Regions from separate parts of the Homo sapiens genome. Here all the other regions are linked to region 1. Evidence: fine-mapped expression QTL. A gene starts in region 1. Each other region holds a variant in brackets. All regions are shown on one strand. Distances are from middle to middle.

Region 1 (2,607 bases):
TTGAGACGGAGTCTCACTCTGTCGCCCAGGTTGGAGTGCAGTGGCACGATCTCGGCTCACTGCAAACTCCGCCTCCCGGGTTCAAGTGAGTCTCCTGCCTCAACCTCCCGAGTAGCTGGGATTACGGCCCTCCTTCCGGGCGGGCGCCACCATGCCCAGCTAATTTTTGTATTTTTAGCAGACACAGGGTTTCACTATGTTGGCCAGGCTGGTCTCGAACTCCTGACCTTGTGATCTGCCCTCCTCGGCCTCCCAAAGTACTGGGATTACAGGTATGAGCCACCGCGCCTGGCCCTTCTCAAGCGTTTTCATACGTTGTTATCGATACGTGAAAGAGCCCATGAGGTAGCTGATTATTATTTCCATTTAATAGTTGATAATACTTGGAATCACTTGCCCAAGATCCTACATCCTGAAAGTCTGAATTTTGGCTTGTCAGGGACAGTTCTTAGGGTGGGTGTGTGTCTTGTGGGCAGAGCTGGGGGTGGCGTATTAATATCTTCGACGAAGATGCACACGCCATTCATTTGGGGCCTCAGGAAGGGCAGCCGAGAACTGAGCTGGCCAGGTTCCCACTTCTGAGTTGGAAATCCCCAAGCCCAGGACGTGGCGGCCACCCCGTCCCATCAGGATCTGACCCGAGGCCTTAGGGCCAAGTAGCGAGAAAGAACCCTTCGACCTTGCAGGTCACACCTCGGCTGCAGGCCCTCGACCCAGCCCAGGTGCGGATGGGCGGGGCGCAGCGTGGGCGAGCGACTCCCCAGGCCACGTTCTGCCTTCCCTCCCCGATCACATGGACTCGCCTTCCGTAGCCGGGAGTGCGGAGCGGAACGAACCACGAGGAGGAGGAGCGGGGGAGGCGCCCAGGGCAGTGGGTCAGCGCCCCGCGGGGCAGGTGGGCGGGCCCAACTGCCCGCGAGCCGGCCAGCCAGCCAGTCAGCGAACGCGGAGGGCGGGCCGGTGGCCCTGCGCGCCGCGCCCCGCAGCGCCCCCTGAGGGGCGGCGGCGGGAGCTGGTTCCGGCTGCGCGCGCAGCGGTGGTGGTGGCGGCGCGATCGGCCGGGCTGTAACCGTCGTCTGTCCGGGAGCGGCTGGAGCGGCAGCGGCGGCCGGGCACGGCGCGAGGTGACGCCACAGGGCAGCGGCGGCAGCGGAGGCAGCGGCGGCAGCAGGAGACGCAGCGGCGGCCGCAGCAGCAGCAGCAAGACGGACTCGTGGAGACGCGCCGCCGCCGCCGCCGCCGGGCCGGGCCGGGTGTCGCGCGCCGAGGCTGGGGGGGAGTCGTCGCCGCCGCCGCCACCGCTACCGCCGCCGCCGCCGCCGCCGAGGTGACTGAGGAGAGAGGCGCCTCCTCGCTCCCGCCACCGCCGGACTTCAATGCCCAGTCCCCAGCTCGCCAGCGTGAGTGCGCCCCTCCCGGGCGGCCCCCGCGCCGGCGCCGGGGGCCTCGGGGAAGGGGAGGGCGGGAGGCGCCGCAGCCATTAGTGCAGGCCGGAGACACGTCCCCGGAAGGAGGGCCGGGCCGGGCCGGGGCGGGGGAGCGAGGGTGGGTGAGCGAGGGGCGGGCTCGTGTGTGTGGAAGGGAGAGAGCTGTGCGAGCGTGGGGGAGAGTGAGTTGGTGAAGGGAGGGCGTGTGAGTGGGGGACAGGGCTGAGTGTCCGTGCGAGGAGGTGGGGGGAGTGGGAGCGCGTCGGGAGGCAGTGTCGATGTTGGGGGAATGTGGGTGAGGGCAGGGGAGGGTATGGGTGTGTGGGGAGCGTGTGGGCATGAGGGGTGGTGGTAGAATGAGTGAGTAAATGGGGGAGGAGAGAGTTGAGAGTGTGGTAAAGAGCGGGTGAGTGTGGGGGGAGAACATGGTGTGTGTCGGTGAGAAGGTGCGTGGCAGAGGCAGGAGTGTGGTAGGGTGTGCCGGCGTGTGTCCAGTGTGTGAGCAGGCATCCTAGAGGCCCTTCCCCTTGGTCTTTGTGTGTGGCGATAGTGAACCCTGGTGTGTTGGGTTGGGGAGTTCTTTCCGGGAGCATCTTGTCCGTGGGTCTTCAGGTTCAAGTATGAGGAAAGGGGGTATAAGTCTCCTCCAGCGGCACTATGATCTTCTGGCTCTGGGATTTTAATTTTTTTCCCCCAGAAAGGATGTGATGTGTTTTTTTGTTGTTGTTCTATACATTTTTTTCTCCCACGTTTCATGACTTCAAAGTAAATTTTCAAATTTGTCAATGATGCCATCCTATCCTAGTCTGGGGCCCCTGAGAGCTAACGAAAAGAAGTTTGTCTGTTGCCCAAAATCCTACACTCTGGCCTGTAGAGTGTTCAGGAGCATAAACTTTTGTAAAGTACTGCTAGTTTTTCAGGTGAAGAGTATTTTATTGTTAGGTAAATTGAACTGTAGTCTGGTTTATTATTTCCTGGAATTTGTCAAGAAATTAGCAGTGACTAGCAATTCTAGTGTCACTGTAGGCATTCAGCAAATGTTTGTCTGTCCGGAGTCGCCAAACTACATTACACTGCTGAGTTGGAATATGGTACTTGCTGTCATGCTCTGTAAGAGAGAGTAGTTTCAGAGGGAAGTGAGTGAAGTTATGCCTTGCTGAGTGTGCAAAAGGAGATTAAG
Region 2 (2,607 bases), 31 kb before region 1:
TGGAAGGTGGAGGTTGGGAGGAGAAAGAGGATCAGGAAAAATAACTAACGGGTACTAGACTTAATACCTGGGTGACAAAATAATTTGTACAACAAACCCCCATGACACAAGTTTACCTATACAACAAACCTGCACATGTAACCCTGAACTTAAAAGTTAAATTAAAAACAAGAGATGGGCTGGGCACACTGGCTCATGCCTGTAATCCCAGCACTGTGGGAGGCTGAAGCAGGTGGATCACCTGAGGTCAGGAGTTCGAGACCTGCCTGATCAACATGGTGAAACCCCGTCTCTACTAAAAGTACAAAAGTTAGCTGGGCGTGGTGGCAGGTGCTTGTAATCCCAGCTACTCGGGAGACTGAGACATGAGAATTGCTTGAACCTGGGAGGCGGAGGTTGCAGTGAGGCAAGATCGCACCATTGTACTCCAACCTGAGCGACAGAGCAAGACTCTGTCTCAAACCAAAAAAAAAAAAAAAAAAAGAGAGAGAGAGATGGTGTCCTTTGAAACACAAAAGTTTTTAATGTTTACAAAGTTCAATTTATCTTTTTTTTGTTTTGTCTGTGCTTTTGAGTATCATATCTAAGAAACTATTGCTTAATCCAATGTCGTGAAGATTGATTCCTATGTTTTCTTCTAAGAGTATTATGCTTTTTTTAGCTCTTACATTTAGGTCTGTTACATTTTTGATCAAATTGTTTATATAGTGTGAACAGGGGTTCATTTTAATTTTTTTTGCATGTGAATATCCAGTTATTGTTTTCATACATTTGTTCAAAATTGACCACAAATGTAAAGGTTTATTTCTGGACTTTCAGTTCTATTCCATTAATCTATATATTTATTCTTTTTTTTTTTTTTTTTTTGAGACAGAGTCTTACTCTGTTGCCCAGGATGGAGTGCAGTGGTATGATCTCAGCTCACTGCAAGCTCCACTTCCCGGGTTCAAGAGATTCTCCCACCTCAGCCTCATGAGTAGCTGGGATTACAGGCATGTGCCACCACACCTGGCTAATTTTTGTATTTTTAGTAGAGATGGGGTTTTGCCATGTTGGCCCGGCTGGTCTCGAACTCCTGACCTCAGATGATCTGCCCCACCCTCGGCCTCCCACAGTGCAGGGATTACAGGCGTGAGCTACCACGCCTGGCCTATATATTTATTCTTATGTCAGTACCATATTGTCTTTATCACTTTGGCTATGTATAAATTTTGAAATCAGTGAGTTCTCCAACTATTTTTTTTCAAGATTATTTTGACTATTCTGTGTCCCTTGCATTTCCATATGAATTTTAGGATCAGCTTGGTAATTTCTGCAAAAAACAAAAACAAAAA[CAAAAAA/A]AACCCAAAAAAACACCAGCTGAAATTTTGATAGGAATTGCACTGAAAATGTAGATCAGTTTGGGGAGTATTGCCATCTTACTCCCCAGAATGCCATCTGTTCATTCCAATATAGGAACACGGGATGTCTTCCCATTTATTTAGGTCTTATTAAATTTCTTTCAACAGGCCAGGAGCGGAGGCTCACGCCTCTAATCCTAGCACTTTAGGAGGTGGAGGCGAGAGGAGCATTTGAGCCCAGGAGTTTAAGACCAGCCTGGGCAACATAGTGAGACTTTGTTTCTACAAAAAATGAAAAAAATTAGCCAGGTTTGGTGGTATACACCTGTAGTCCCAGCTACTTGTGAGGCTGAGGCTGGAGAATCTCTTGAGCTTGGGAGTTAGAGGCTGCAGTGAGCTGTGATAGCACCACTGCACTCCAGCCAGGGCAACAGAATAAGACTCTCTCTATAAAACCAACCAACCAACCAACCAACCAACCAACCAAACGAACAAACAAACAAACAAAAAAAACAGACGCAAAGTCTTTTAACATTTTTATAGTTTTCAGTGTCTGAATCTTGTTATTTATTTATTTATATTTGAGACAGAGCCTTGCTCTGTCGCCCCAGCTGCAGTGCAGTGGTGCAATCTTGGCTCACTGCAGCCTCAACTTCCCATGCTCAAGCCATCCTCCGCCGCAGCCTCCCAAGTAGCTGAGACTACAGGAGTGCACATCCAGGTAATTTTTTTTTTTTTTAGACGGAGTCTTGCTCTGTTGCCTAAGCTAGAGTGCAGTGGCACGATCTCGGCTCACTGAAAGCTCTGCCATCCGGGTTTCATTCTCCTGCCTCAGTCTCCTGAGTAGCTGGGACTACAGGCGCCCACCACCACACCCAGCTAATTTTGTGTATTTTTAATAGAGACAGGGTTTCACCATGTTAGCCAGGATGGTCTCGATCTCCTGACCTCGTGATCCATCCGCCTCGGCCTCCCAAAGTGCTGGGATTACGGGGGTGAGCCACTGTGCCCAGCCCATGCCCAGCTAATTTTTAAATTTTTTTTGTAGCTACGAGGTCTCACTGTATCACCCATGCTGATCTTGAACTCCTGGCCTCAAGCGATCTGCCCACCTCAGCCTCCCAAAGGGCTGGGATTACAGACATAAGTCACCGTGCCTATCCAAGTCTTGTATAATACTTCTTTTGTTAAATTTCCTCCTATGTATATTATTCTTCTTGATGATATTGTAAATAAAAATTATTTTCTCAATTTCATTTTCAGATTG
Region 3 (2,607 bases), 26 kb before region 1:
AAAATGATGGAATTTCAGCCGTGAGCCACTGTGCCTGACCCTTTTTTTTTTTTTTTTAAGGCTAGTTAAGTCAAGTGAAGCTGTGGGAGTGGAAAAGGAATAAAGAAATATTTTAAACAGTTGCATACTATTCCATTTTAGTAAATGACTGTCCTACTGAAGGATGTTTAGATTCTGTCTCTGTTTTTTTTTTTTTTGAAACAGAGTTTCTCTCATCTAGGGTAGAGTGCAGTGGTGCAGTCTCAGCTCACTGCAACCTCTGCCTCCCAGGTTCAAGCGATTCTCTCGCCTCAACCTCCCGAGTAGCTGGGATTACAGGTGCCTGCCACCACACCCAGCTAATTTTTTTGCTTTTTTGTTGTATTTTTTCGGGGTTTTTTTTGGGGCGGAGTCTTACTCTGTCACCCAGGCTGGAGTGCAGTGGCGCGATCTCGGCACACTGCAACCTCTGCCTCCCGGGTTCAAGCAATTCTCCTGCTTCAGCCTCCCGAGTAGTTGGGATTGCAGGCATGTACCACCATGCCCAGCTAATTTTTGTATTTTTAGTAGAGACGGGGTCTCACCATGTTGGCCAGGCTACTCTCCAACTACTGACCTCAAATGATCCACCTGCCTCGGCCTCCCAAAGTGCTGGGATTACAGGCGTGAGCCACCATGCCTGGCCATTTTTTTGTATTTTTAGTAGAAACAGGGTTTTACCCTGTTGGCCAGGCTGTTCTCAAACTCCCAACCTCAGGTGATGCACCTGCCTCGGCTTCCCAAAATGCTGGGATTACAGGCGCCCAGCCTAAATTCTCTTTTGCTGTAGCAAACATCCTTGTGTTAATTTCTTTGGACATGCCAAATTGCCTTGGGAAATACTTTGAAAAGTAAAAAGAACCATACAAGGGCAAGGGCTTTTATGATTAGGATGATTGTTGTTGTTTTCCTGCAACTTTGCCTTCTCTGCAGTCTGAAACCCCAAGTTCTGACCATGAGTGCTCTCTCTAGTGGACAGGCGTGCTCTCCATCACTTGCTCTAGCTGTCAGAAAAGAGTGTCTCCTGAAAGTCTCTGGCTTGGAATAGACAGCATTGTTCAGATAGGTTTGCAGTCTTTAGGCTTAGGCTGCTAAACCCTGATTATGGCCCGTTTTGGGATGGGGTGCTGGGCTACTGATGCTGGTGTGCAGCACATTAACTGCAGGGATAGCCAGAGGTCACACTTCTGGGGATGACCTTGACTTTCAGAGTAGACTGGGTGAGCGGTATTTTGCTAGATCAAGCTCTGACCTGTTCTGACCACAAGAGGACAGTAGTGAGCTGCCTAGCGCTTCTGCCAGGCTCATGGAAGGCCCTTCCTATACAGGGAGTGTCTGTCTGGAGTAGCTCCCTGCAGGACTGGGCAGCCAGGTAAATTCTCCTCTTCCTGAAGAATGAAGGTATGTGCTGGTCGTGGTGGCTCATGCCTGTAATCCCAGCACTTTGGGAGGCC[G/A]AGGTGGGCGGATCACCTGGAGTTGGGAGTTCCAGACCACCCCGACAAACATGGAGAAACCCCGTCTCTACTAAAAATACAAAATTAGTTGGGTGTGGTGCCTGTAATCCCAGCTGCTTAGGAGGCTGAGATGGGAGAATCGCTTGAACCCAGGAGGCTGAGGTTGCGGTGAGCCGGAGATCGCGCCATTGCACTCCAACCTGGGCAACAAGAGTGAAACTCAGTCTCAAAAAAAACAAAAACAAAAACAAAAGAAGAAGAAGGAAGGTATGGTAGAGGAAATCTGGTCGAATGTGATTTGAGGACAATATAGGAGAAAGTAAAATCAAGGTGGACTCCTCATGAAAATAGCTTCATTTTTTTTCCTCATAAATATAATGTATGCAGATTATAAAAACTTCAAATAATACATAAAAGTACAAAGAAGAAGCCAGGCGGGGTGGCTCATGCCTGTAATCCCAGCACTTTGGGGGGCTGAGGCGGGAGGATCACGAGGTCAGGAGATCGAGACCATCCTGGCCGACATGGTGAAACCCTCTCTACTAAAAATACAAAAATTAGCCGGGAGTGGTGCTATGCACCTGCAGTCCCAGCTTCTCAGGAGGCTGAGGCAGGAGAATCACTTGAATCTGGGAGTCGGATGTTGCAGTGAGCCAACATCACACCATTGCACTCCAGCCTGGGCGACAGAGCAAGACTCCGTCTCAAAAAAGAAAAAAATAAATACTAAGAAGAAGAGAAAGATCTCCTGAAGTGTCATGGCCTGAAATAACCGCTGTTCAAATTTTTGGCAATACTTTTGTTTTTTCGAGTTTTTTGTGGCAATTTTTTTTTGAGCGGTAGCAAGGTTTATTGTGAAGAGTGAAAGGACAAAGCTTCCACAGCGTGGAAGGGGATCCAAGCAGGTTGCCCTTTTTTTGGCAATATTTTTGAAACCTGCATTTTGTACTCGGAAAATGTTGTGGATATCTATCTTTGTAAATACCTTTAATGTTAGAGGCCTCAGGACTTGTACTTGCATAAATGCTTCTTAAGTTTTTCCACCCAGTAACCCCAGAGGCAGAAAAGATGAATGCTGTGCCAGACAGGTAATGCATGAGACTGTGTGTAGGGTCTGAAATGTACGAGAGCAACA
Region 4 (2,607 bases), 89 kb after region 1:
CCATCTTTTTTACAACTCCTAATAAAATGATGGATTCAGGCAATAATCCCCTATGGATGAAATTATTAATGTGAAAGGCTGATGGAGAATTTCATAATGGAGGGATCAGATTGTCACACCTGAGCCCATGGGCCCACCCTAGCACTGCTCTTGTATCTCCTGAAGTGAAGTCACGTGCAGTACACAACCCTTACAGTTGTGTCACGTGCAGTACAAACTAAGAACGGGCTGCCTTAGTTTGGATTTCCCAAAAAAGCAGACTGTATCTAGGAAAAGGATCGGGGTGCAAGTGATTTATTTGGAAGATGATCCCAGAAAGCATCCGTCTTTAAGAGAATAGGGAAGTGAGGCAGGGAAAGGCAGAAAGCCAATAAAAAGTGAATTAATGAGTGGGTCTTTACTCCGGGAACTGGAGCTCCATTCCTCTGGGGACCCTCTGAAAGGCTATACAGAACATGTCGGAAACCTTCCCTAGAGAGGCGAGGAAGCTGGGCTATTTAGCCACCAATCTCCACCCAACGCTAGTCAAAGGCTGCTCGGGGTTGTTAACTCCCTGGCTCTTCTCAGGAGCAGAAAATGCCCTCAGGTTGCAAGACTCAGAAGGTCTGCAGGTGGCCTCCAGCACTGGCCCATGGGACATGGTGGGACACCAACAGTGCCTGCTCTGGTGCCTTGCCAGAAGAGTTGAACCTGAGGCCGGACTTCTATCTACAGGAAATATAGGGGATGGAGAAGCAAGTAAATGATACCGCAAAGAGGCAAGTAGACACACCCAGGCCGTGGGGCTCCACAGGACCAATGATTCCTTCAACGAGGGTGTTCTCTGAGCTGGTTCCCACTGTAGGCAACTGGGCATATCCTGCTGGGGCCCCTCAGAGAAACCATGAGGAATACCCTCAGAATTGTTCCACAGAAGGTAGGAAAGCTGACGCATTTATCCATGATTCCAGTCCCTCATTGCTGAGGGCTGCCGCAGGGACATCAGCTTCCTGGACTTCCAAGCTGTGTCTGCTGGAGGGTTGAGTGGCCTTCTGCAGCTAAGGAGAAAGCCCGGAGGCAGAAAAGCTGAGGGAAGCTGCAGGGCGCATTTGAAATGGGGTTCAAGCAGGGTGCATGCAACTGTCCCCCCTGGATGCCCTGAGTCAACTGGGCCAAGCAGGTGTGAGGAGCGCCCCACCAGGGTCTGTACAGTGTCTCAGCAGATGAGTTCCTGCTGCAGGTGCACTTC[T/C]GGCCTTGCTGGCTGCCTCCAGCAGATGTAAGAGCTCTGGCCCTTACCACATACTGGAATTTCTCTGTGTGGGCTGTAACGAATGTGTGCCCCCCCCCCCAAGACGTGTGGGTGTGCGTGTGTGCACACATGTGTGTGCGCGCAGGTGATATGAAAGCGCTTTGTAGCCCTGCCTTGCTCTTAGAAGTACCCGATATTTCTCAGAGTGGTTTTCCTGGACCCAACCCATTTCCTCCTCGCAGACAGGGGCTCTGTGACACTTGAGCTTGGTCATGCCACTTCCCTGCTTAAGGTCATCCAAGCAGCACCGATGGCTCCTGAGTTCCCAGACCCTGAGATGCTGGAGTGGGGCTGGAGGATGGGCCATTGCTGGGCTGCCTAGATCAGGCACCTGGGCCCGTGGATCTTACAGGGGTCTCGAGAGGTTGATGGGGTGTTGAGGTCCTGAAGGGAGTACCATGGAGGTGGCCTCCTCCACGGGCCCCTGCCCTTGTCCTGGTCTCTGTCTCTCCCTATTTCTCACCTCTGCTTCTCTTGGTCTCACTTTTCCCATCTCTCTGTCTGCCTCAGTGTCCCCCTCTCTCCCTCCCCCCGACCTCTGTACCAGTTTCCCTACCCCTGGCCCCACTTCTGTCTCGGTCCTGGCCCCACCCTCCACCTGCCTCTAACTCCATTGCTTTTTGCACACCTCCTCCTCCTTCACAATAGTTTTCTTTTTCTTTTCTTTTTTGATGGAGTCTCGCTCTGTCACCCAGGCCGGAGTGCAGTGGTGGAATCTTGGCTCACTGCAACCTCCGCCTCCCAGGTTTAAGCAATTCTCCTGTCTCAGCCTCCCAAGTAGCTGGGATTACAGGCGCACACCACCATGCCCGGCTAAGTTTTGTATTTTTGGTAGAGACGGGGTTTTGCCAGGTTGGCCAGGCTGGTCTTGAACTCGTGACCTCAAGTGATCTGCCTGCCTCGGCCTCCCAAAGTGCTGGGATTACAGGCGTGAGCCACTGTGCCCGGCCCCTCATAATAGTTTTCTGCCTTCCTATCGAGAGTCAGTTTTTCAAGACAAAACAAAACAAAACAAAACCCACCACAACTTTAAAAACTCTTAGAAACATATTTTAATCACAAACGTGCAACACAGAAACATTAAGTTGGATAGAGGAAAAAATTCATAATCCCTTCACCCTAACTCGGCAGCTGTGGTCAATTTTGATGATTCCCTTTCAACCTTTTAAAATGACTTTTTCAATATAGCATCCTATACTTTGATTTTACATTCTGCTTTTTTAATCTAAATAATAAATCCCTTCAGTGGCTTCCAGTTTCTAAGCAAAACCAAAGCGCCTTTATGATGGCCTGAAAGGCCCTGAGTGATGTGCCTACTG

The links.
Region 2: its variant is fine-mapped to the expression of PTP4A2 in whole blood (INTERVAL, PIP above 0.99).
Region 3: its variant is fine-mapped to the expression of PTP4A2 in whole blood (INTERVAL, PIP above 0.99).
Region 4: its variant is fine-mapped to the expression of PTP4A2 in whole blood (TOPMed, PIP above 0.99).

The regions. Positions count from the first base shown.
Region 1 is chr1:31,936,780-31,939,386 of GRCh38, reverse strand. PTP4A2 (protein tyrosine phosphatase 4A2) reads left to right here and starts at 1,019. Exons shown (of 6, transcript NM_080391.4): 1 at 1,019-1,400. RefSeq lists enhancers at 433-702, 1,813-1,862 and silencers at 763-1,142, 1,345-1,516, 1,293-1,632.
Region 2 is chr1:31,967,650-31,970,256 of GRCh38, reverse strand. No RefSeq gene overlaps it. Among named protein-coding and RNA genes, the nearest start is that of PTP4A2, 31 kb to the right of the region's middle. The variant CAAAAAA/A (reference allele first, on the strand shown) is at 1,335.
Region 3 is chr1:31,962,960-31,965,566 of GRCh38, reverse strand. No RefSeq gene overlaps it. Among named protein-coding and RNA genes, the nearest start is that of PTP4A2, 26 kb to the right of the region's middle. The variant G/A (reference allele first, on the strand shown) is at 1,473.
Region 4 is chr1:31,847,421-31,850,027 of GRCh38, reverse strand. No RefSeq gene overlaps it. Among named protein-coding and RNA genes, the nearest start is that of SPOCD1, 33 kb to the right of the region's middle. RefSeq lists an enhancer at 1,193-1,242. The variant T/C (reference allele first, on the strand shown) is at 1,229.